Homo sapiens: one gene and its partners. The protein of the gene in region 1 purifies or fractionates together with the protein of each later gene. This does not show direct contact. Each region holds a gene or a part of one and is shown on either strand. Other genes may lie near its edges.

What was found. The genes of interacting proteins can lie anywhere in the genome.
Region 2: the proteins of NPM1 (region 1) and MYBBP1A purify together in Homo sapiens (affinity purification with mass spectrometry; 5 studies listed by BioGRID and IntAct, with this or other methods). This does not show direct contact.
Region 3: the proteins of NPM1 (region 1) and RMP64 purify together in Homo sapiens (affinity purification with mass spectrometry; 6 studies listed by BioGRID and IntAct, with this or other methods). This does not show direct contact.

What each region holds. Positions count from the first base shown.
Region 1 is NC_000005.10:171,383,756-171,390,850, forward strand, and holds the start of NPM1 (nucleophosmin), read left to right. Parts: upstream 1-4,093; 5' UTR 4,094-4,193; coding exon 4,194-4,251; intron 4,252-6,295; coding exon 6,296-6,375; intron 6,376-7,095. UniProt on the Homo sapiens protein: Involved in diverse cellular processes such as ribosome biogenesis, centrosome duplication, protein chaperoning, histone assembly, cell proliferation, and regulation of tumor suppressors p53/TP53 and ARF.
Region 2 is NC_000017.11:4,552,370-4,560,185, reverse strand, and holds the start of MYBBP1A (myb-binding protein 1A), read left to right. Parts: upstream 1-4,801; 5' UTR 4,802-4,861; coding exon 4,862-5,059; intron 5,060-5,229; coding exon 5,230-5,325; intron 5,326-5,907; coding exon 5,908-5,991; intron 5,992-6,092; coding exon 6,093-6,167; intron 6,168-6,268; coding exon 6,269-6,376; intron 6,377-7,559; coding exon 7,560-7,735; exon of another isoform or gene 7,736-7,746; intron 7,747-7,816. Other genes in the region: GGT6 (glutathione hydrolase 6), read left to right, coding at 426-628, 730-843, 1,129-2,171. UniProt on the Homo sapiens protein: May activate or repress transcription via interactions with sequence specific DNA-binding proteins. Repression may be mediated at least in part by histone deacetylase activity (HDAC activity).
Region 3 is NC_000003.12:113,009,657-113,016,678, reverse strand, and holds part of RMP64 (nucleolus and neural progenitor protein), read left to right. Parts: intron 1-2,646; coding exon 2,647-2,726; exon of another isoform or gene 2,727-2,730; intron 2,731-3,275; coding exon 3,276-3,407; intron 3,408-3,867; coding exon 3,868-3,945; intron 3,946-5,272; coding exon 5,273-5,634; intron 5,635-5,974; coding exon 5,975-6,036; intron 6,037-7,022. UniProt on the Homo sapiens protein: May play a role in cortex development as part of the Notch signaling pathway. Downstream of Notch may repress the expression of proneural genes and inhibit neuronal differentiation thereby maintaining neural progenitors.

The DNA of each region.
Region 1 (7,095 bases):
GAGCCACCACACTCAACGAATTTTAAAATTTTTTGTAGAGATGGGGTCTCCCTGTTGCCCAGGGTGGTACAAATTATTTTTGGCCAGGCATGGTGGCTCACACCTGTAATCCCAGCACTTGGGGAGGCTGAGGTGGGTGGGTTGCTTGAGCTCAGGAGTTCAAGACCAGCCTGAGCAACATGGTGAAATCGTCTCTACCAAAAATACAAAAAATTAGCTGGGCATAGTGGCCTTTGCCTGCAGTCCCAGCTACTTAGTAGGCTGAGATGGGAGGATCACTTGAACCTGGGAGGCGGAAGTGAGCCGAGATCACCCCACTGCACTCCAGGCTGGGTGACAGAGTGAGACCCCATCTTAGAAAGAAAATTATTATTATTATTTTTTGAGACGGAGTTTTCACTTTTGTTGCCCAGGCTGGAGGGCAATGGTGCAATCTTGGCTCAATGCAACCTCCGCCTCCCAGGTTCAAGCAATTCTCCTGCCTCAGCCTCCCAAGTAGCTGGAATTACAGACATATGCCACCACACTCAGCTATTTTTTTTTTTTAATTTAGTAGAAACAGGGTTTCATCATGTTGGTCAGACTGTTTTCAAACTCCTGACCTCAGGTGATCCACCTGCCTTGGCCTCCCAAAATGCTGGGATTACAGGTGTGATCCACTGCACCTGGCCGAAAACGATTTTTTAGGGTAATCAAATAATTGATCAAGAAACATTCTCCTTTACAGAAGATTACAGACTGAGATTACAGGCATGCCACCACGCCTGGCTAATTTTGTATTTTTAGTAGAGACGGGATTTCTCCATGTTGGTCAGGTTGGTGTTGAACTCCCGACCTCAGGTGATGCGCCCTCCTCGGCTTCCCAAAGTGCTGGGATTACAGGCGTGAGTCACCACACCCGGCCAGGAACATGTTAAATGACAACATGACTCAAGGTAATGTGTAGACCTTGTTTTGATCCTTATTCAAGCAAATCAACTGTAAGAGACAGGGGTATTTGAACTGGGTAATTCATACTATTAGAAATAAATATATCTATTTTGAGATGGAGTCTCACTCTGTCACCCAGGCTGGAGTGCACTGGCTCAATCTCAGCTCACTGCAACCTCCATTTCCTGGGTTCAAGTGATTTTCCTGCCTCAGCTTTCCAAGTAGGGAGAGACAGCTTTAGTAAATATCTTTGTACCTATATAATTATTAATGTCTGAAAGTAGTTTTGTAGAGTATTCTAAGAAATGGATTTGCACAGTAAGTAGAGCAGGCACTTACAAATATATATACAGTACATATAAATGCTTCTTTTCTTTTTTCTTTTTTTTGGTTGGTTGGTTGGTTTTTTTAGAGACAGGCTCTCACTCTGTCACCCAGGCTAGAGAGTAGTGGTGTGAACATGACTCACAGCAGCCTTGACTTTCCAGGCTTAAGATCTTCCCACCTACCTCAGCCTCCTGAGTAGGTGGAACTACAGGCATGTGCTACCACACCCGGCTAATTTTTTCTGTTTGTTTGTAGAAACAGGGTCTCACTATGTTGCCCAGGCTGGTCTTCAACTCCAACCCCTCCTGCTTCAGCCTCCCAAAGTGCTGGGATTACAGGCATGAGCCATTGCACCTGGCATTCACTGTTTACGTAAGCAGGGTCGTATTATATATATATTGTTCTCCAACTTTGCTTTTTTACTTCATGTGGCATAGCTATCTTTCCAGGATATAATATATAGGGGACCACTGTATTCTTTTTAGAAGTTGCACAGTATTCCACAGGATAAACTGATATACCATTTTTTAAATACAAGTTTTATTTTAATCTTCATTTTTTAACACATTTTATCATGGAAATTTTCAAACAAGAACAAAAATAGAAGGAATCCTATGATGAACAACCATATACCCATCACCCAGTTTTAACAATTATCATCATGTAGTCAATCTTATTTCATATATACCTTCCCACTCTCCTTTCTCCTCCCCTTTTGCTGGATTGTTTTTTTTTAAAGTCTCAGATAAGGCCGGGCGCCATGGCTCACGCATGTAAGTCCAGCACTTTGAGAGGCTGAGGCGGGTGGATCACTTCAGGTCAGGAGTTCGAGTCCAGCCTGGCCAACATGGTGAAACCCCATCTCTACTAAAAATACAAAAATTAGCTAGGCGTGGTGGGGGGCGCCTGTAATCCCAGCTACTTGGGAGGCTGAGGCAGGACAATCACTTGAACCCAGGAGGCAAAGGTCACAGTGAGCCAAGATCATAACACTGCACTCCAGCCTGTATGACAGAGCGGGACTTCGGTTTCAAAAAAAAAAAAAATTAAAATAAAAAATAAAACAGTGGCCGGGTGTGGTGACTCACGCCTGTAATCCCAGCACTTTGGGAGGCCAACATGGCGAAACCCTGTTTCTACTAAATATACAACAATTAGCTGGACGCGGTGGCAGGCACCTGTAATCCCAGCTACTTGGGAGGCTGAGGCACGAGAATTGCTGGAACTCAAGAGGCAGAACTCGTGAGTCAGAGATCTTGCCACTGCACTGCAGCCTGGGCAAGAGAGCGAGACCCCGTTTAAAAAAAAAAAAAATGCTGGCTGGGTGCGGTGGCTCACGCCTGAAATCCCAGCACTTTGGAAGGCAGAGACAGGCGGATCACCCGAGGTCAGGAGTTTGAGCCCAGCCTGGAGAACACAGCGAAACCCCATCCCTCCTAAAATACAAAAATTAGTCGGGCGTGGTGGCATGCACCTGTAGTCCTCGCTACTCGGGAGCCCGGGAGGCGGAGGTTGCATCCAGCGGAGATCACGCCACTGCACTCCAGCCTGGACAACACAGCGAGACTCTGTCTCCACACACACACAAAAAAAGGCATAACAAATTTAAGTGACTCAAAGCTTTATGTGACACAGGAGCTCTCAGAAAGGAACAGTTAAATTATAACATGTCCATATTATGCGTTAGTATGTGTCCACAACTAACCCATAATATGGACATGTTATAATTTAACTGTTCATTCCTCTCTTGATAGACACTGAAATCGTCTCTATAATTTTCCTGTAAGAAATAATGCCTTGGGGTGGGGGTGTCTTCCTTTCTGAGGCTATCATTTGTATTCCTCACTTCTTAAATTTGTTTGATATGTTGAGGCTTAAAAAAAAAAGATTACGGGTCTTCAGAACGCCCCAATGCCCGCGGGGTGCTGGGGTGCCTCGGAGTTTGTCAAGGTGTAGCTTAAAACGTTAATTCCCATGCTCGCTCCCAAATATTCGAATTAAGGCTTCTGTAGTTCTTACAAGTCACCCGCTTTCTTTCAGGAGGAATGTTAAAGATTAAGAGCGGCAAGAAGTCAGAGTCGGCCCACCCTCCGAGCTCTCTTAGGGCGATGTCCTTGCTAATTTGGAGACTGATTCAGTCCCCTTTTGGCCCCCAAGTTACGTAAAGATAAGGACTTTGGAGATGTTTTCTCAGGAAGGACAGAGCTGAAAAACAAAGTTCCGTAAGTCTGGCCGGTAACTACATCTTTCCTTCCTAACAAAGAATAAGCCGCAATTCACTCTCTCTGGCACCTGAACTTTGGGGTAACGATTAACTGCGATCCGAAGCCTTCAGGCAAGTAAAAAATTCCTGAAGTGATTACGCCTGTTTGGAGGCTTGCAGGGCACTAGGGGATGGGGAAAGGTGAATCGAGGTGCTCTCTGGCTCATTCGCAGCCGGCTAACCCGCCATATCTTACACAGCTAAGGGCTGCCGACGCCATTTTGCAGGGTGGGCTGCGCAGACTCTTGGCGGGAGGCCGGCGCGCTTGAGCGGGAGAGGACGTGGAAGGGTTGGAGGTGGGGAGTGCGCGTTACGACTGGAAAGCACGCGTGCGCACAGGCGACAGCAGCGGAGGGGTGGGGCCAGTGTACGAGTGCGCGTGCTCGGTGGGAGCCCGCGGAGTACCTGGAAGGAGGTGGGGGCGAGGTAGAAAGGAGTGGGGTTGAAAAGCGCTTGCGCAGGACGGCTACGGTACGGGGGTGGGAGGGCTTCGGAGCACGCGCGCGGAGGCGGGACTTGGGAAGCGCTCGCGAGATCTTCAGGGTCTATATATAAGCGCGGGGAGCCTGCGTCCTTTCCCTGGTGTGATTCCGTCCTGCGCGGTTGTTCTCTGGAGCAGCGTTCTTTTATCTCCGTCCGCCTTCTCTCCTACCTAAGTGCGTGCCGCCACCCGATGGAAGATTCGATGGACATGGACATGAGCCCCCTGAGGCCCCAGAACTATCTTTTCGGTAACTGCTGGGGGGAGCTGGAGCGAGGCCGAGCGGGGCCTGGTGGCGGTGAGGGTGGGGGTGAGGGGCGGGAATCCGGCTGCAACCGGGTCTGGTGGAGACCGCCAGACCGACGGGAGGCCTGAGCGGGTGGGAAGAGCTGCCTGAGCCCTGGACCTGGAGGGATTGGAGCCGCGGGGGGAGCCGGTGGCGTGAAGGGGGAGGAGACGAGCGGCCTGAAGCGTCTGGGGCGTGAGCGGTCCGAGGCCCGGGGCCTGAGGTAAAGTGGAACCGGCCGCCTGGAAGTTCGGCCTTTGCCGGGGATACGTGGCGGAGCTCCAGGCGTGGTTTATTTTCTAACGGCGGTGGTTCATAGGCTTCTGATGCCAGGCCCCGGGTTGGTGGTCCTGGAGGCTGGGTTCACCGGGAAGCATGGGCCTGCTTGTTGGAGCGGGTAGATGCACAGCCTGGCGTTATTCTGGCCTCAGAGCCTGGAGCTGCCGGACGTAGACTTACCTCGCGTGCTTCGGCCAGTTACTGGGGGTGGGGAGGCGCGGCGCGGCGTGAGGAGGCCGCAACCGCTGGGAGCACGTGGTTGCCACGTGGTTGGGGGAGGGAGGGGGGTGTGGGCGCTACATCCGGGACTCACCGGCGTGTTGCCACTCGTGAGCCAGGGATGCTGTGGCTCTGTTGAAGTGGGAAATGTTAAGAGGCTGGTAGCACTAGGGTTCTGGAGGTCTTTGTTCAGTGCTTACAGCATGTACTGTGATGGCAGCTCTCATTTTTTTGAGCCCCTTTTCTGTCTCACTGCGGTAGGTGGAGCTAGCCCCACTTTGCAGATGAGGATACTGGTGCCCAGAGATAAACTCACTTAACGAAGGTTGTACTTAGTAAAGGCAATAAGAGACTAAATCTAAACCAAGACGCTTGACTCCGTAGCTGCTGCTTCGTGAATATTAATGAGGCTTCGTTTTAGGGGGACGTCCTCGCATGCCGCCATTTGTGCGGCATTGACCAAACTGCTTTTCTAAATACAAGAAACACGTAGAGTGTTCGGTTTGAGTCAGATCAAGACCTAAGACTATTCGCAGAATTTTGGGAGCACCACCCCCCTCGACTTGCGGTAGTCCTGCCCCAAAAAGGAGAGTCCCACTTGGGTTTTTGATCTCAGTAGGATTAATTGCAGAAGCCTAATCTTTGTACTATTCAGACTTTGAAGTAAATGCAAATCCTACCGTGAATTTTATCTTGTTCATTATCCGTGCTGAGATTTGTTAATTAAACGTCTGTTCACATTTAAGCATGTATATGTATTGGTAACGGTTAGATGATAGTTAAATGGAATCATTTAAAATTTTTATTCTGACAGTGTTTTGAAGAATTTTGCCCATTCATGGAGTGAGAGTAGACATATGTATTCAAAACATTAAGGCTTTAATTCCTAGTTATTTTGGATAGCTGAGAATTCTGGTAAATTTATATCAGTACTTTTTGATAACTATCGGAAAGAACCCTCCTTGTCTTAAACATAATTTCTGAATATAGTTTGAGGCGTATGTCACTTTCTGTTGCTTTAAAGAGTGGAGTGTTGATCCCTGTAGCAAACTTCGGTTCTTTTACTTTTGTCATTTTTCTTTTGTAATAGTAAGCTATTCATGTTTGTAACCGTTCTCATTTCGAAATTGCCATTTGGGAATTTAGGTAGGTAAATCAGCTGTTTTAAATAGTGGGAAACTTAACATTGGACATTACATTTGGTTTCAGATAATTGCTTCAGGTTGAGATTTACTAAACCATTGAGCTTGTTTATGCAGAATAACAGTACCTATCAGCGTAGTTAGAGATGAAATATGGTATGATGAGAGAATGGAATTATAGTCTTTTATGGGTGTCTGTAGAGGTTTCTGTTCAAGAAATCTAGGAATTGATCATTCTGCTTTGCCCTCTGGTAGCTAAAATAGTGAAAAACTAGTTCAAAAGTTAGACCTGACCTTTTTGGTTACCCACACTTAAGTTTCAGTGTTATTTTTCTCCTTGTTAGAGTTGCTTTTTTCTTCATTTACAGGTTGTGAACTAAAGGCCGACAAAGATTATCACTTTAAGGTGGATAATGATGAAAATGAGCACCAGTTATCTTTAAGAACGGTACTTAAACTTTCAAAATAAACTACTTAACCCTACTTGATTTCAGCCTTTTAGTTTCTATTCATGTGGCTTGAGACTTTTTTTCCTTTGCTGACTGCTTATAAAATACTATTTCTTACACCTGGGTATTGTGTGTACCTCACTGTCTGTACATCTTTGAAGAACTTGGCATCTATACCACTCATTTGGTAACCATGTAAATTCCAGTCACACTGTTCAACTTGCCTTATTTTCTTCAGTTGAATTACAAAGCCCTTGTAAAAGGCATCGATAATCTTTCATGTCTACCAGAGACTAGCCTTCTGCTCAACTTAGAAGTTGCTCAATAAATATGTTAGGTGGTCTATATTGTGTGTATGCATATTTATGCATTTCTTAAATTTTCTGAATATGAGAAACTGATTTGCCAAGATCACAAAACCTGAGGACAACATTGCACAAATTTGTTTTCCAGGGTAATAGTGAGAGGTTTATACTTGTTTTTTAAAAAAATCACAGTCATGTGCCTCATTGCAACTGCTGGGTCAACAGATGGATCGCATATACAATGGTGGTCCCATAAGATTATTATACCTTATTTTTAATATACCTTTCCTGTTTTTTTTTTTCTTTGGAGGCAGTCTCGCTCTGTCACCCAGGCTGGAGTGCAGTGGTGTAATCTCGGCTCACTGCAACCTCTGATTTCCGAGTTCAAGTAATTCCCTGCCTCACCCTCCCGAG
Region 2 (7,816 bases), on another chromosome or scaffold:
GACATTTGTACCAAGCCAGCCTCTGTCCCATCTGCTGCTTTGTCAAAGGTCCCCAGCCCCCAAGTCCTGGTGCAGGAGGCACCTGCTGGGCAGGTTGGGGCCTGACTACGCCTGGCTGGGCCTGCTCCCCAGCCCCTTCTCTCCTGCCTGCCACACCCCACTGGGCCTCCCTCCCACCTGAGTGGACTCTGCCCCACCAATCTCCCCTCCAGAGGCTCCCTCCCTAGCTAGGCTCAGTTTCCCCAGATGCTTTCCCATCCCCATGTCTGCCCAAGATGCACCCGCTGCCAAGAAGCCCTTTCTCCTTGGCTGACTTGTGCTCCTCTTGCTAAATCAAACCTTTTGGGAAATATTCCCTGGGGTCTCTTGGGGTCCTTGGGCATCCCTCTGTCCCAGCCGTGGCTCAGGACACCCCCCCTCTGCAGGAACAAGGCTGGCGGGCTGCCCGGAACCTGGGCCCGTGTAGTGGCAGCCCTGCTGCTGCTGGCTGTTGGCTGCTCCCTGGCTGTGAGGCAGCTCCAGAATCAGGGCAGGTCGACAGGAAGCTTGGGCTCTGTGGCCCCTCCACCCGGCGGACACTCCCACGGCCCTGGCGTATACCACCACGGTGCCATCATCAGCCCTGCAGGTCAGTCAGTGCTGGGGGCGGCTTGGGGAGGGGAGGGTCAGGGGTCACCAGCCCAGCCTAGCCCCCCTCCTTGCTGCATGACAGTGCCTTCCTTGCTGCAGCCACATGCTCCCACCTAGGCCGAGAGCTGCTTGTTGCCGGGGGCAACGTCGTGGATGCTGGAGTTGGAGCTGCATTGTGCCTGGCAGTGGTGCATCCTCATGCCACGGGGCTAGGTCAGTGACCCCTGACCCCAGACTGCAACCCCAACCCACAGCCTGATCAGTGACCTGGAACTTAGGGAGTCAGTAGCACTGACCTCAAGACTGCTAAGTGAGCAGGACTTAGGGTTTGGGCAGCAGTCCAACCCCAGGCTATGACCCTTGAGCCCGGGTCTGTGGAACTTTGACCTCAGGCCTGGTCAGTAACTCCTGATCCCAGGCTCAGTCAAGGGATCTTGACTGAAACAAGTCAGTGACCCTTGACCTGCGGCTGCTGAGGGACCCCTCTGTCTCCTGCAGGTGCCATGTTTTGGGGCCTCTTCCACGATAGCTCCTCAGGCAATTCCACGGCCCTGACATCAGGCCCAGCACAGACCCTGGCCCCCGGCCTGGGGCTGCCCGCGGCTCTGCCCACCCTGCACCTGCTGCATGCACGCTTCGGCCGCCTGCCCTGGCCACGCCTGCTAGTGGGCCCCACCACGCTGGCTCAGGAGGGCTTCCTGGTGGACACACCCCTGGCAAGGGCTCTGGTGGCTCGGGGCACAGAAGGCCTCTGTCCACTACTTTGCCATGCTGATGGGACACCCCTGGGCGCTGGGGCCCGAGCCACCAACCCACAACTGGCAGCTGTGCTTCGCAGCGCAGCCCTCGCTCCCACCTCAGACCTTGCTGGGGATGCTCTACTGAGTCTACTGGCGGGAGACCTGGGGGTGGAGGTGCCCTCGGCTGTGCCCAGGCCCACTTTGGAACCAGCAGAGCAGCTACCTGTGCCCCAGGGCATCCTGTTCACCACCCCCAGTCCCTCAGCTGGCCCAGAACTGCTGGCACTGTTGGAGGCAGCCCTGCGCTCCGGGGCGCCCATCCCTGACCCCTGCCCACCGTTCCTGCAGACTGCTGTGAGCCCCGAGAGCAGTGCCCTGGCCGCCGTGGACAGCAGCGGCTCTGTGCTCCTTCTCACCTCCTCGCTCAACTGCTCCTTTGGCTCTGCACACCTGTCCCCAAGCACTGGGGTTCTGCTCAGCAACCTGGTGGCCAAGTCTACCACTAGTGCCTGGGCCTGCCCCCTCATCCTCCGTGGCAGCCTGGATGACACAGAGGCTGATGTGTTGGGGCTTGTGGCTTCAGGGACCCCTGATGTGGCCAGGGCCATGACTCACACCCTACTCAGGCATCTGGCAGCAAGGCCCCCTACCCAGGCCCAGCACCAGCATCAGGGTCAGCAAGAACCAACAGAGCATCCCAGCACTTGTGGCCAAGGGACCCTGCTCCAGGTGGCAGCCCACACAGAGCACGCCCATGTCTCCAGTGTCCCCCATGCCTGCTGCCCCTTCCAGGGGTTCTAACAGGATGGGGGTGGGTCTGGCAGAAGGCAGAGTTATCTGAAGCATGGGGGCAGGAGCAGAGCAGACACAGCAGCAATGGAGTGTGCACCCGCAGGGTGTGGTGCCTCACACCTGTAATCTCAGCACTTTGGGTGGTCAAGGCAGGAAGATACCTCGAGGCCAGGAGTTTGAAACTAGCCTAGACAACAAAGCAAGATCTCATCTGTACTAAAAATTTAAAAATTTGCCAGGGGCGGTGGCACATGCCTGTTGTCCCAGCTGCTTGGGAGGCTGAGGCAGGAAGCTCGCTTGAGCTCAGGAGTTCAAGGCTGCAGAGAGCTAGGATCACACCACTGCACTCCAGCCTGGACAACAGAGTGAGAACCTGTCTTTAAAATAATAATAATAATAATAAAAAAATAGCTGGGTGCGGTGGCTCATGCCTGTAATCCCAGCACTTTGGGAGGCCAAGGCAGGTGGATCACCTGAGGCTAGGAGTTCGAGACCAGCTTGGGCAACATGGCGAAACCCCGTCTCTACTAAAAATACAAAAAATTAGCTGGGCATGGTGGCGGGCACCTGTAATCCCAGCTACTTGGGAGGCTGAGGCAGGAGAATCACTTGAACCCGAGAGGTGGAGGTTGCAGTGAACCAAGATCGCACCATTGCAACCCCACCTGGGCAACAAGAGGGAAACCCTGTCTAAAAAAAAAAAAAAAAAAAAGGATTTATTATGTGCTCACTGCTGGCTCAGGCCCCAACCTCTGGCCTTTTAAGTTACCTAGACTTGAGTTCTGGCATCCAGAGCTAACAATCATTCTTCAGATCACCCACACCGGATGGAATCTCTAGCTATTTTATCAGCTAAGAAAATCAGGGTAATAACGAAAAAGCAGTAGGGCCTGGGGCTAGCACTGAGTTCAGATCCAGCTTTCAGGAGGACAGTGGAAAGAGTGCAGAGCCTCTGCCTAGGCCCTGGGCCCCACGAAGCAGGACAGGCAGAGCCCAGGGTACTGTTGGCATCTCTGTCCTTCCCTTCAGGACACCCCTTACCTATCTGCCTCAACCAGACTGGGTACAAAATAAAGATCAAGTCTCCCGGAAACCAAGCACCATTCCTGCTTCTTGGTTAATTTTCCAACAGCTTTTGAAGCAACTGGAGTCAGGGCTTCCCTGATGGGCAGCACAGGTGACCAACAACCAGAGAGGGGAGAGCCTGGGTTGGTATCTTTCAGCTTCCCCCTGCTCCGCTCACCTCCTGCCTCCTGGGGCACCAGATGTGCAAGGTGAATGTTTTCATTTCACTTTCTAGAACAGACAGCAAAGCAGGGAAGCGGCTGAGAGGGTGAGAAGGCGCCCCAGGGGCTTGGGTACAAAGGGGTTGGAGTTGAGCGTGTGGAAATTCAAGGCGAAGGTTAGCCCTGACCTCCCCCAAGGGTTAGGTCCTCTCTGGACCACAGCCCTCTATAAACAGCTTCTCAAACCAAGAAGCGAGGGTGACCAGTAGCAGTTCCCCTCCCCTGCCATTGTAAAAGGCTTCTCTGATTTAATAGACCGTTTGATCCCACCACCTTTACCTCCCACTCCCAAGAAAATTCTTCTCCGTAATGGCACCACAATGTACCCAGTTATTTCAGTCTCAAACCTGGCATCCCCCTCATTTCCTCTCCCCCGACATCTAACTCCATCACCCACCCCACCTGCTCCACATCAGCCCAAATCTGACCTGTTCTCATTTTCCCTGGGTCCAGTCCACCACTATCTCTAAATGGTCTTCCCGTGCTTCCACCTGCGCAGACCTACAGTCCATCCCCCACACAGCAGCCAGCATCATCTTGTTAAAATGTAAATCGGATCCAGGCTTGCCCCTGCATTAAACTCACCAGTGACTTCCCATCACCCTCAGAATGAAATCCCAGCCCGGGGCCCCATGCAGCCTTGCTTCTCGCCAGCCTCAGCCCCTCCAGCCCTGGGTCTCTGTAGTTGCAAGGCTTGGGATTTCGTCCCCTTAGATCCTTGCAGGAGTACGGGGGAGGGGGGCCCTTCTTGTCACTCAGCTCTCATCCCAAATGCCACTTCCTCACAGAGGCCTTCCCTGACCAACCCCTCAAATCATTATTGGAGACCCTATTGAATAGTAATTAGCCGTGTTTTTAACGGGTGATGTATTCACGTTCCAGCACTTAAAAGCCTCCTCCTGACCCTTGCATTCCTAATTCTCTTCATAATTATGATCTTTTTAAATGCATTTGGCTCCGTGTTCCTCCACGAGAGCAGAGGCTTTGTTCCAACCGCCTAGCACGGCACGCCAGCAGGAGCCCAGTAATTGTTGAATGGCTCAATGTTCGGAGCGCAGGGGCCGCTCTGGGACGAGTCGGATCGAAGTGCTACACCTAGGTTTGTTTCCGAGATGGGCCCTTAGAAATGCCCCCCTGGGGCTCCAAAGGGGCAGATGCCACAGCCGCCAGGGCGGAGCGGGTGTGAGCAGAAGGCTGGGAAAGATGGGACGCCGCTAGGCGAGGGACTTCCGCTCAGAGCTACGGCGGAAATGCCGCTCTTTTAACTCTGGGCCGGTCTCTCTTGGTTCCCCCGCCCCTCCGGGTTCTTCCGCCTCCGAGCCGACACAAACCGGTGCGCATGCGCCGTGCCCTGACCTGGAAGCGGCTGGGGCCGGAGCACACGTGTTTCGTGTTTCGGTGAGTGTGGCGGAGATGGAGAGCCGGGATCCCGCCCAGCCGATGTCGCCTGGAGAAGCGACGCAGAGTGGCGCCCGGCCTGCCGACCGCTATGGCCTATTGAAGCACAGTCGCGAGTTCTTGGACTTCTTCTGGGACATTGCGAAGCCTGAGCAGGAGACGCGACTTGCGGCCACGGAGAAGCTGCTGGAGTATCTGCGTGGCAGGCCGAAGGTGGAGTGGCGGGGTCTGGGGCAGAGGCTGCGCATATCCCGGCAAGGAAGCGGCGGCGGGCCCAGGGAGTTGAGACTGGGGGCACGTGGTCGCGAACCTGGATGCCAGGGTGCGCGGGGGCGTGCACCTTGTTGTCACCATTGAACACGAGGGTGTGCTTGGTTCCGCAGGGGTCCGAGATGAAATATGCCCTGAAGCGTCTAATCACGGGACTCGGGGTCGGGCGAGAAACAGCCCGGCCCTGCTACAGTTTGGCCCTGGCACAGGTGAGGTGGTGCTCCTGGCAGGGTCCCAGCCATCCAGGTCAAAATGGTGGGGTATGAGGAGGGCGGGTGTGGTGTCTCAGCTGTGGCGGAGGGGCAGCCCGAGAGAGAGGTCGGGAGTGGCAGAGCAGACTGGAGGCCAACCTGAGGGAGGCCTCTTCATGAAAGTGGAGAAGGTGTGAGCAAGGCCTGGCCAGGTTTTCTATTTGGTGCTTGGGTTGCCCGGCCTCTTAGGTACACTTTCTGGGAGCAGTGAGCGCTGGGTGGGCTCCCTTAGGCCTGCAGAGGCATTCAGCTGATTGGAGTAGACCACTCTCTGAGGCGCCTTGACAAGGGGCAGAGCAATAAAGACCCAGGCCTGCAGGATCAGCCTGAGGGGAGCTCAGACCACGTGCGGAGAGAAGACCCAGTGGCTGAGCATTTCAGACTAGTAATCTAGGGGCCATAGAAGGTACATAGAAGGTGGGACTAGGGACCTGAGGCTTCTTGGGAGAAGTTGAAGGGGGAAGGGAGGTTAAGGTTTGTGAAGACGTAGTTGGGCCACTCTCCTGAACCCTCTTCCTCCTGCCACACAACTCCTGGCAGCTGTTACAGTCTTTTGAAGACCTCCCCTTGTGCAGCATCCTGCAGCAGATACAAGAAAAATATGACCTGCATCAGGTGAAGAAGGTGAGAGTGGGGCCAGGGAGGTCAGCAGCCCCAGGGGTGGGAGGCTTGGGGAATGGGGAGTTCCAGGGCCCCTCATGCCTGTGCCTGGAATCCTTTTCTAGGCAATGCTGAGACCTGCTCTCTTTGCAAACCTGTTTGGAGTGCTCGCCCTCTTTCAGTCAGGTCGGCTGGTGAAGGTAAGAGCTTTGGAGGGACTGGGGGAATGTAGGCTGGCTTGGGATGGGTGGGGGACAGTCGTGTGCCCTGCTCATACCCTCTGTCCCTCTGTGGGGACCAGGACCAGGAGGCACTGATGAAGTCGGTGAAGCTGCTGCAGGCCCTGGCCCAGTACCAAAACCACTTGCAGGAGCAGCCCCGGAAGGCCCTGGTGGACATCCTCTCCGAGGTATGAGCTCCCCAGCTGTGCGGGCCCAGGCAACACTTTGTTACAGAGACATCAAGGGGGCTCGGATGAGAATCTGGAACAGCACTGTTCCATAGAAATACAAAGATGTATAATTTGAAGCGTTTCAGTGACTTTGTTGAAAAGGTAAAAAGAAACAGGTGTCATTTAGTAACATTTAGTGACATTTGACTTTATCTGGTATATCTAAAATATTATTTCAGTGTGCATTGGTATAAAAAAGTGTTGAGATATCTTACACTCTTTTTGTCAGGTGTCTCCAAAATCCAGTGTGTATGTTACACTTAGGCACACCCCTGTTCAGATTAGCCACCTTTCAGGCGCTCAGCAGCCCTGTGTGGCTGTGGCTACCGTATTGGGCAGTGCAGCTCTGGAACTGTGCCTGGCACGTGGCAAGTATATAAAACGTTTGCCATTGTTATCCTGGTCAAGGCTGGCCCCTTGTGGGCCTCCACTGCCCTACTTGGGAAGGTAGCACCCTAGGCCCTTTTGTCACCGAAGAGAAAGGCAGGGGTAGCAGGTCTCCAGGCCAGGGCTTACTGTGCAGTCTTGACCTCAGAGCCAGAAGGACCTGAATTCGAATCCCAGCTCTCCACCTAGGGCTCCTCGTGTATGAAATGAGCTAGTACTCTGAAATACCAAAAAAAGGAATAATTAAAAGGGTAGCTTTGACCGGGCATGGTGGCTCACGCCTGTAATCCCAGAACTTTGGGAGGCCGAGGTGGGCAGATCACTTGAGGTCAGGAGTTCAAGACCAGCCTGGCCAACATGGTGAAACCCCATCTCTACTAAAAATACAAAAATTAGCTGGGTGTGATGGCGCACACCTTTAATCCCACCTGAGGCAGGAGAATTGCTTCAACCTGGGAGGCGGAGGTTGCAGTGAGCCAAGATCACACCACTATACTCAGCCTGGGTGGCAAAGTGAGACTCTGTCTTAAAAAAAAAAAATAAGGGGTGGGGGGCAGGTACCTCCAGGGGCCAGTTAGCGTCAGTGGGATGCTTGTCAAAAACCCCGCTGCCTGGGAATTTGAGTTTTGTTAGCAACTGGCCTCTGATGACTCTGATACCTCACCAGGTGGCCCCGTGTCAGGAGCAGGTAGAACAGGATCCACCAGGCTCACCCCGCAGAGGAAGTCACGATTTCTTCTCCCTCCATCCTTAGGTCTCGAAGGCCACATTGCAGGAGATCCTGCCGGAGGTCCTCAAAGCCGACTTGAATATAATACTCAGCTCCCCTGAACAGCTAGAGCTCTTCCTCCTGGCCCAGCAGAAGGTGCCCTCCAAGCTCAAGAAGCTGGTGGGATCCGTGAACCTATTCTCAGATGAGAATGTCCCCAGGTGTGATGGAGGTGGGCGGATTTGCCCTCCCTGGGGCCAAGGGACTGCATCTGGCCAGGCCCAGATTTGTCGTTTGGCCTG
Region 3 (7,022 bases), on another chromosome or scaffold:
TAGTTTTCTACCCCTAGTACTTAAAGCAAACAGGGTGAAGATTTCATCAAAGAAAGATCTGGGACCATGGTCTTTCCCTAAATTTTCCATTCTAGGGTGGCTTTTATCTTTTTCGGAGTCTTTTTGATCCAAAAGCAAGCTTGCTAACCCTCAAAGTGAATATATTTCTCCTTCTAGCTTCTGGGTTGTGAATAATCACCCCGTCATCAAAATTTGGCATTCTCTAGTCTCTCTCTCTTACGTAGCTCTCCCATCCAGGCAGTCCATAAGACAAAACTTCCTCTGCATCTGGTCCCCTCTTCAGTTCTGGCTGCCATTTTCCTTTCTTAGACCTTGTCAACTTTTAGTTGTCTTACTATCATAACTGATGTTTCCTCCTTCAGCTTTTCCTAAGTTCTGGCATATTCTAAATATTAAAACCAGGTTAATCATCTGAAAACACAACTTTGATTTTTAGTCGTTCTCCATTGTGTCCTGAGTAAAGACCAAACTTCTTAGTTTGGCTTACGAGATCTGTGATCTGGCCTCTTCAGTCTTCTTAGTTCGGGCTTCTCTCTTGCGTTCAGATAGATTATATTCCAGCCAACCTGGACTCAACACACCTGCATGCTCACTATGTTTGTTCCTGCTTCTGAGTCTGCTTACCTGGTCCTGTATGTTTAGAATGCCCAGCCTCACCATGTCTGCCTGTTAAAGGCCTTCCTATCCTCTAAGTCCCATTTTAAGCCTTTCTGGCAGTGATAATCTGTGTTATAGTAATCTCATTTTAAGTTGTATTTTTCTGATTATTACTGAAGTTGCTTTTTTTTTTTTTTTTTTAAATTCTTGGCTATTTGGGCCTCCTCTTTGTACTTATAGCATTTAATATAGTCTGTGTCATGGTAAAGTTATTTGTGTATATATTTTATATTCCATGTGATCCCTGAAGTAGGAAACATGTTTTATGCTTATGTTACTGCTGCAGCTGCTATTACCACTTCTACTACTGCCTTACAACTGCTTAATATTTCACAGTTTTCAGAGAACTTTCATGTAAGTACTAGAATTGGCCTGTCTCTAAACATTCCCCTAAATGGAACACAGAAAGTAGTTTTGATTCCTGTTCTGTGGAGTACATGTAGGGCATGCTGGCAGATAAAGTGGTATTAGAAACTTCCCTATCTCTAGTTGCTAAAAATCTAGTAGTAAAAATAGGAAGACATGTAAAATATTTAATTAAATGCTAAAATAAAAACAGACCCTATTTAAAATTGCAATCTTCTCAGCACTCCCTCTCTGCCTTATTTGTCTTCATAGCACTTAACACCACCTGCCATTGATTGACTGCCTTTCTCTCCCAGCTATAATGTAAGCTCCACAAGGGCAATGTATTTTGTCCCTTTTGTTTACCACCATAATCCAGTTCTTAGAACAGTGTTCAGTAAGCACTCAATAGGATTTTTAATTTTTTTTAAAAAAAGTAAGAGCCATGCATGGTACAAAATGCTGTAGGAATTCTGTAGTCCTCAGGAATAACACACAAAGGGCAGCATGGGACTGCATCTAGACAGATACAAAAATTTGGATGGGCATTGATACTGGCAACAAGAGTATCTTGCCAGAGCTGCAAATATACTTCTAGAAATTGAACCAAGGTTATGGATTCTGTTTTAACAGCGGTTTTCAAGAATAATGGAGGGAACAATCCTTAAATTCTTTAGGGTCAGCTCCTATCTTTTTCAGTTTTCAAGTCTGGACACCATCCTTTGAGGGAGGTATTGACAAACCCAGATGGTAAAGCACTTGGAAAACATAGTAAGTGAACTGCGGTTCAAAAGAGAAAAAAAACCCAAGAGAGAGAAGGGAGAAAGAGAGAAGATGCAGAGGAACATAAGAACAAGCTTCATCTAATCAAAGAATATATTTGTTCAGTGATTAAAGCCAATCGTTTTCCTCATCTCTGTGGTACTTTATAGACTGTTGAAATTTAGTAGTTAATAATTTTCTATCTTGTTTTAATAGTTTCACTATTAAAAATCATGTTGTCGGCCAGGCGCGGTGGCTCATGCCTGTAATCCCAGCACTTTGGGAGGCCGAGGTGGGCGGATCACAAGGTCCAGATCGAGACCATCCTGGCAAACACGGTGAAACCCCGTCTCTACTAAAAATACAAAAAATTAGCCTGGCGTGGTGGCGGGTGCCTGTAGTCCCAGCTGCTTGGAAGGCTGAGGCAGGAGAATGGTGTGAACCCAGGAGGTGGAGCTTGCAGTGAGCCGAGATCACGCCACTGCACTGCAGCCTGGGCGACAGAGTGAGACTCCATCTGAAAAAAAAAAAAAAAATCTTGTCTTAGCAAAATTATAATCTTGAGAATAACCTATACTCGTTTTGGTCCCTTTTATGACATCAAGCTCATTGTGGCATATACTAATTTCTTAGGAGTCACCTGATTTTAAAAATGTGTTTGGCTGGATAAATTCCAAATTTGTAACTAGAAGCAATTGCTTGCGCTTTGGATTTCTCTACCCTGAAAAAAAATAAGGTATTCTGTGATATTTAGCATATTTCCATACTTTGAAAATCTAGAAGTCTTTGCTTTCCTGGTCATAATCAGTGACCCTGTCTGCATTACATACACATGAATTTGAACTGCTCTTCTTCTTTCAGGTTGAGCAATGTTTAAAGCGTTTGAAAAACATGAATTTGGAGGGCTCAATTCAAGACCTGTTTGAGTTGTTTTCTTCCAAGTAAGTAAGTGGTCCAGTTGCTTTGTGATGTGGTGGGCTGGGAACTCAATGTCTTGTGATCTCCCTTTGGATTTCTCTATGCTTGCTGTTGGAATATAACCAATTATACCTCAGCTGTATAAATTTTGTTTTAATGTGGGGTACCTGGTGTTTGTGGTAATCTTCTGACATTGATCTATGGGAGTGACTGGTGTGACATTGAAATCTGGGTCATGGTAGATTATATTAAAACATCAGTGGGCTGTTATTGTGCTTAACTACCTCAAGTTGAGCTTAAAGCAAGTCTTCACTTGAAAACTGCTATAGAAATGCTTTATATTTAAAAATGAAAGTAATGGGAGCTTGCACATAGCTGAAAATGTGAAGGGTCGCCCAGGGAGGACATGGAAGCTCTGTGCTTCTTCTGCCATACCTTGCCCTATGCATCTCTTTGTTTCAATCCTTTGTCATATCCTTTATAATAAACTGGTAAATGTAAAAAAAAAAAAAACAAAAAAAAAACCCTTTTTTTTTAAGTGAAAGTAATGTACTTTTTCTATTTTTTTCAAGTGAAAATCAGCCCTTAACTACCAAAGTATGTGTTGTCCCCAGTCAGCCAGTGGTGGAGTTGGTGTTGATGAAGGTTTTGGGAGCCTGCAAGTTGTTGCTCCGCTTGTTGGACTGCTGCTGCAAAACTTTTCTGTATCCTTGAATATCTTGAAATATACCTTCTTTTGATTTGGAATTGTTTGGATATTTTTAACAGTATTTTTGTTTGAAAGCTAACACTCCATAGGAGTTACAACCTACAGGAATTCTTAAACTTTTGCTTCTTGGCCTCCTTTTCTCAGGAATTGCCTGATGCAGCCATTGCCAGAGACTGCCTGTCACTGTTCAGCACGTATTATCCTAAGAGCATTGATAGCTAGAAATTCTTAATCTTAGAAACTAAACTTTAAGAACTAAATTTAATAATGGGAACTCTAGCAGAGTGTTTATAACCATATTTTAAAGTTTTAAATTCTTAAATAGAATGTGTTTTAAGGCTTTAATACCTTTAAGAAAATTCTCTTTACTTCCAATATATTTCTTCATTCATGATTGTAACTTACAAAACCCACATTACTTTGATTTTGTTTTCTACCTTAAATTGATTTTCCAGTTTGACTGTGAAACATCTAGGTTTGCAAGAGTTCATTATTTTAAACCTTGTGATGGTTGGGCTGGTGAGCAGGTTATGGTATGTACATACCTCTGACATCCTTCATTTCTTTCTCATCTCCTTTCAGCCTAGGTTTCTTATTAGTAGTTTTCAAACTTATTTTCTTATGGGGTTATGGAAGGTGCAGGTATTCTCTTTCTTGGTTTGATCAGAGTTTTTTGAGGGTAGATTGGGAAGCCGAGTGCTGATGGCTGTATCAAAGGAGTAGGCTTTGTATCTCAATCCACAAGATCAGCCCAATCACTGAACAACTAAAAAAATCGGGAGTGACTGGTGTCACACTGAAATCTGGGTCATGGTAGGTTGTAGTGAAACATCAGTGGGCTTTTACTGAACATTAAAAAAATTAATGCCTGTGACTGGGAATTGCAGTAATAAAAAATTGTTGGTAGTAGTCATATTGCAACAGGCCGTTTAAAATGATGCTAATCCTGGGCTGGCTGTATCACTTGATTCTTTCTGTCACTCGGTTTCTAATTTTTAATGGCAATGATAAATGCAATTTTTGACCTTCTTATGTGCTAGACTATTTTCTTCCATCTCAAACACCACTGCTTTTTTGAGCATATTTAGTTGATGTATGCTGGTAATACTTGGAAACTAAAGAGACATCTCTTTCATGTCTCTCAGTACATATTGTGAAACTGATCTGATGGATAATTAGAATTTGCCCGTATCTGTAAGAAGGCCTGTTTTGGGCCATTTCAAACAATTAAGATTATTAGTTCTAATATGAATGTAAGAAAACATTGGATGGAGAAAAGAAAAAAAGTTTCTGTGTTTAGAGATTGAAAACCTTGCTTTGATATCTTAACCTGGATATCTCAAATAGTATTTCCTATTGTTTTATTTTTTATTCTACTTATTCTTAATCAGAGGTAACAATGTTTGATTACTAATCATATTATTTTAAAATGCTAAACCTTTGATACTCTCTTCTGTAATGAAAATAGCTTTAATTTTTGCTGATTATAATACATGCCTGTTTTAAGAAATTTAAAAAGAGAAATGTGAAGAACCTGAAATTTGCCTAAAATCTCACCATCTACCACACTTAAAACTTTGATATGCATCCTTTTGTACATTTCTCCATGTAGTACTTTTTGAATATATATATATCTTTCCTGGTAGACTGTCTTACAGTTTTTTGAGTAACATTTTATACTTGGATTTTTCTGTTGGGTTGGACTAATCTGGCTGTTCGCAAGTGTGCACTATAGTGTTTTTTATCTGTACTGGAGGACCTTGATAGCCATTTATTTTCAGCTTTCAATCTTGCAGTTTATTATGTAATCTGCAAATTGTAATTACTGGCTAATTAATGAGCTCCTATTTCTTTCTCTAGGGTTCTCTATAAAGGTGTCTTAAAAAGGTTGATTTTGTTATATGAGCCTTTGTTTGGATTGCTTCAAGAGGTCGCTAGGATTCAACCAATGCCTTACTTCAAAGATTTTACCTTTCCTTCTGATATCACTGAATTTTTAGGACAGCCATATTTTGAAGCCTTTAAGAAAAAAATGCCTATAGCTTTTGCAGCTAAAGGAATAAATAAATTGCTAAATAAACTGTTTTTAATAAATGAGCAGTCACCAAGAGCCAGTGAAGAAACCTTGCTTGGAATTTCAAAAAAAGCTAAACAAATGAAGATCAATGTACAGAATAATGTGGATCTTGGACAGCCAGTAAAGAATAAGAGAGTCTTCAAAGGTAATTTGCTTTGATACAGCACATACTCTAGTAAAACAAAAAACAAATAAAAAGAAACCTTTTGAAAGTAATAGTCATGCATTGCATAGAAAGAAATTCAACATCTCACATCTTAATTTTGACTCATATTGATTAGAGAGGTATGGTAATACCTGTGCTTTCTAAGCTTGAGTACTTTAAGTTGTTTATTTGTTTCTGTAGTTGCTTCCTAGTTATTTGCTTGCTTTATTCCTTTATTTTGTGGTAATTTGGCAAGAAATGTCATGCACTTAAGAATTTGTTGTAGATTTGAAAATAGTATGCCTAAGGTTTTGTATCTGCAATTTTTCCACCTCCACAGAAGAGTCATCAGAATTTGATGTGAGGGCTTTCTGCAACCAGCTGAAACACAAAGCTACTCAGGTTTGTCTGGCTTCATTAAATTTAGCTTATGATTTCTGCTAATTTGTAGAGGATGCTTCTTACCAAGGGCAGAGATTGAATCTTTTCATTTTATCCCCAGCTCTAAGCTTAGTGCCTTCTTAGTTGTCAGTGTGTGCTTCTGAATGAATAGAGGCAAGGGATTTTTAATACATCTAGTTAATTCAGTTAATAGAGTACCTTCAGAAATATTTTAGTAGGAGTTTCTCTAGAATTTTAAAGTAACCGTAAGATCTGTTGTTAAGTATGGATTGTACTGCAGCTTAAGAGTATAGGCTTTGCAGTCAGACAGTTGGTTTGAATCCTGGCTTTGGTACTAGCTGTGTGACCTTCTGTGAGTTTCCTGATCTCTCCGTACCTCTATTTTGTAATAGTAATATGTGCCTCATAGGGTTGTGCTAGTTTTAATGCATGTAAAGCGTTCGGTAGTCTGGAGTATGGTAAGCATTTAATTGGAGTTAGATGTTATTAGCTACGGTCATTTTGGTCATCATCCTCATCATTTTGTCATGAAGCTATTCCTTTACTCCTGTTGAGGTTCAAGTTTTAACATGATTGATTAATGTCTGTAAATTCTGTTTGTTCTGGACCTAACAGCATATAAGTACATCGGCATTACTGTTTTACTCAGTAACTTGACTTTTTTTTTTTTTTAACCCTGTCTTTGCAAAATGTCTACTTCTGGTATTTTTCATGGGTTAGTTTACTTCTTTTATTTAAGAATTCTTAAACATATTTTCTTGAACTTAAGGACTCCAGCTTCCATTGATGTTCTGTCCAATTTATGAATTCAGAGTGAGGAGTAATACTTTCTGTGCCAGGCATTGTTCTAAGTGCTTTTATATGCATGAAGTCATGTAATTATATCACAAAAGCTCTGTGAGGTGGGCATGCTTATTACTGTTTTCATATTTCAGATGAGGAAACTGAGGCATAGAAAGGCCAAGAAACTGCCAGGCCACATAGTG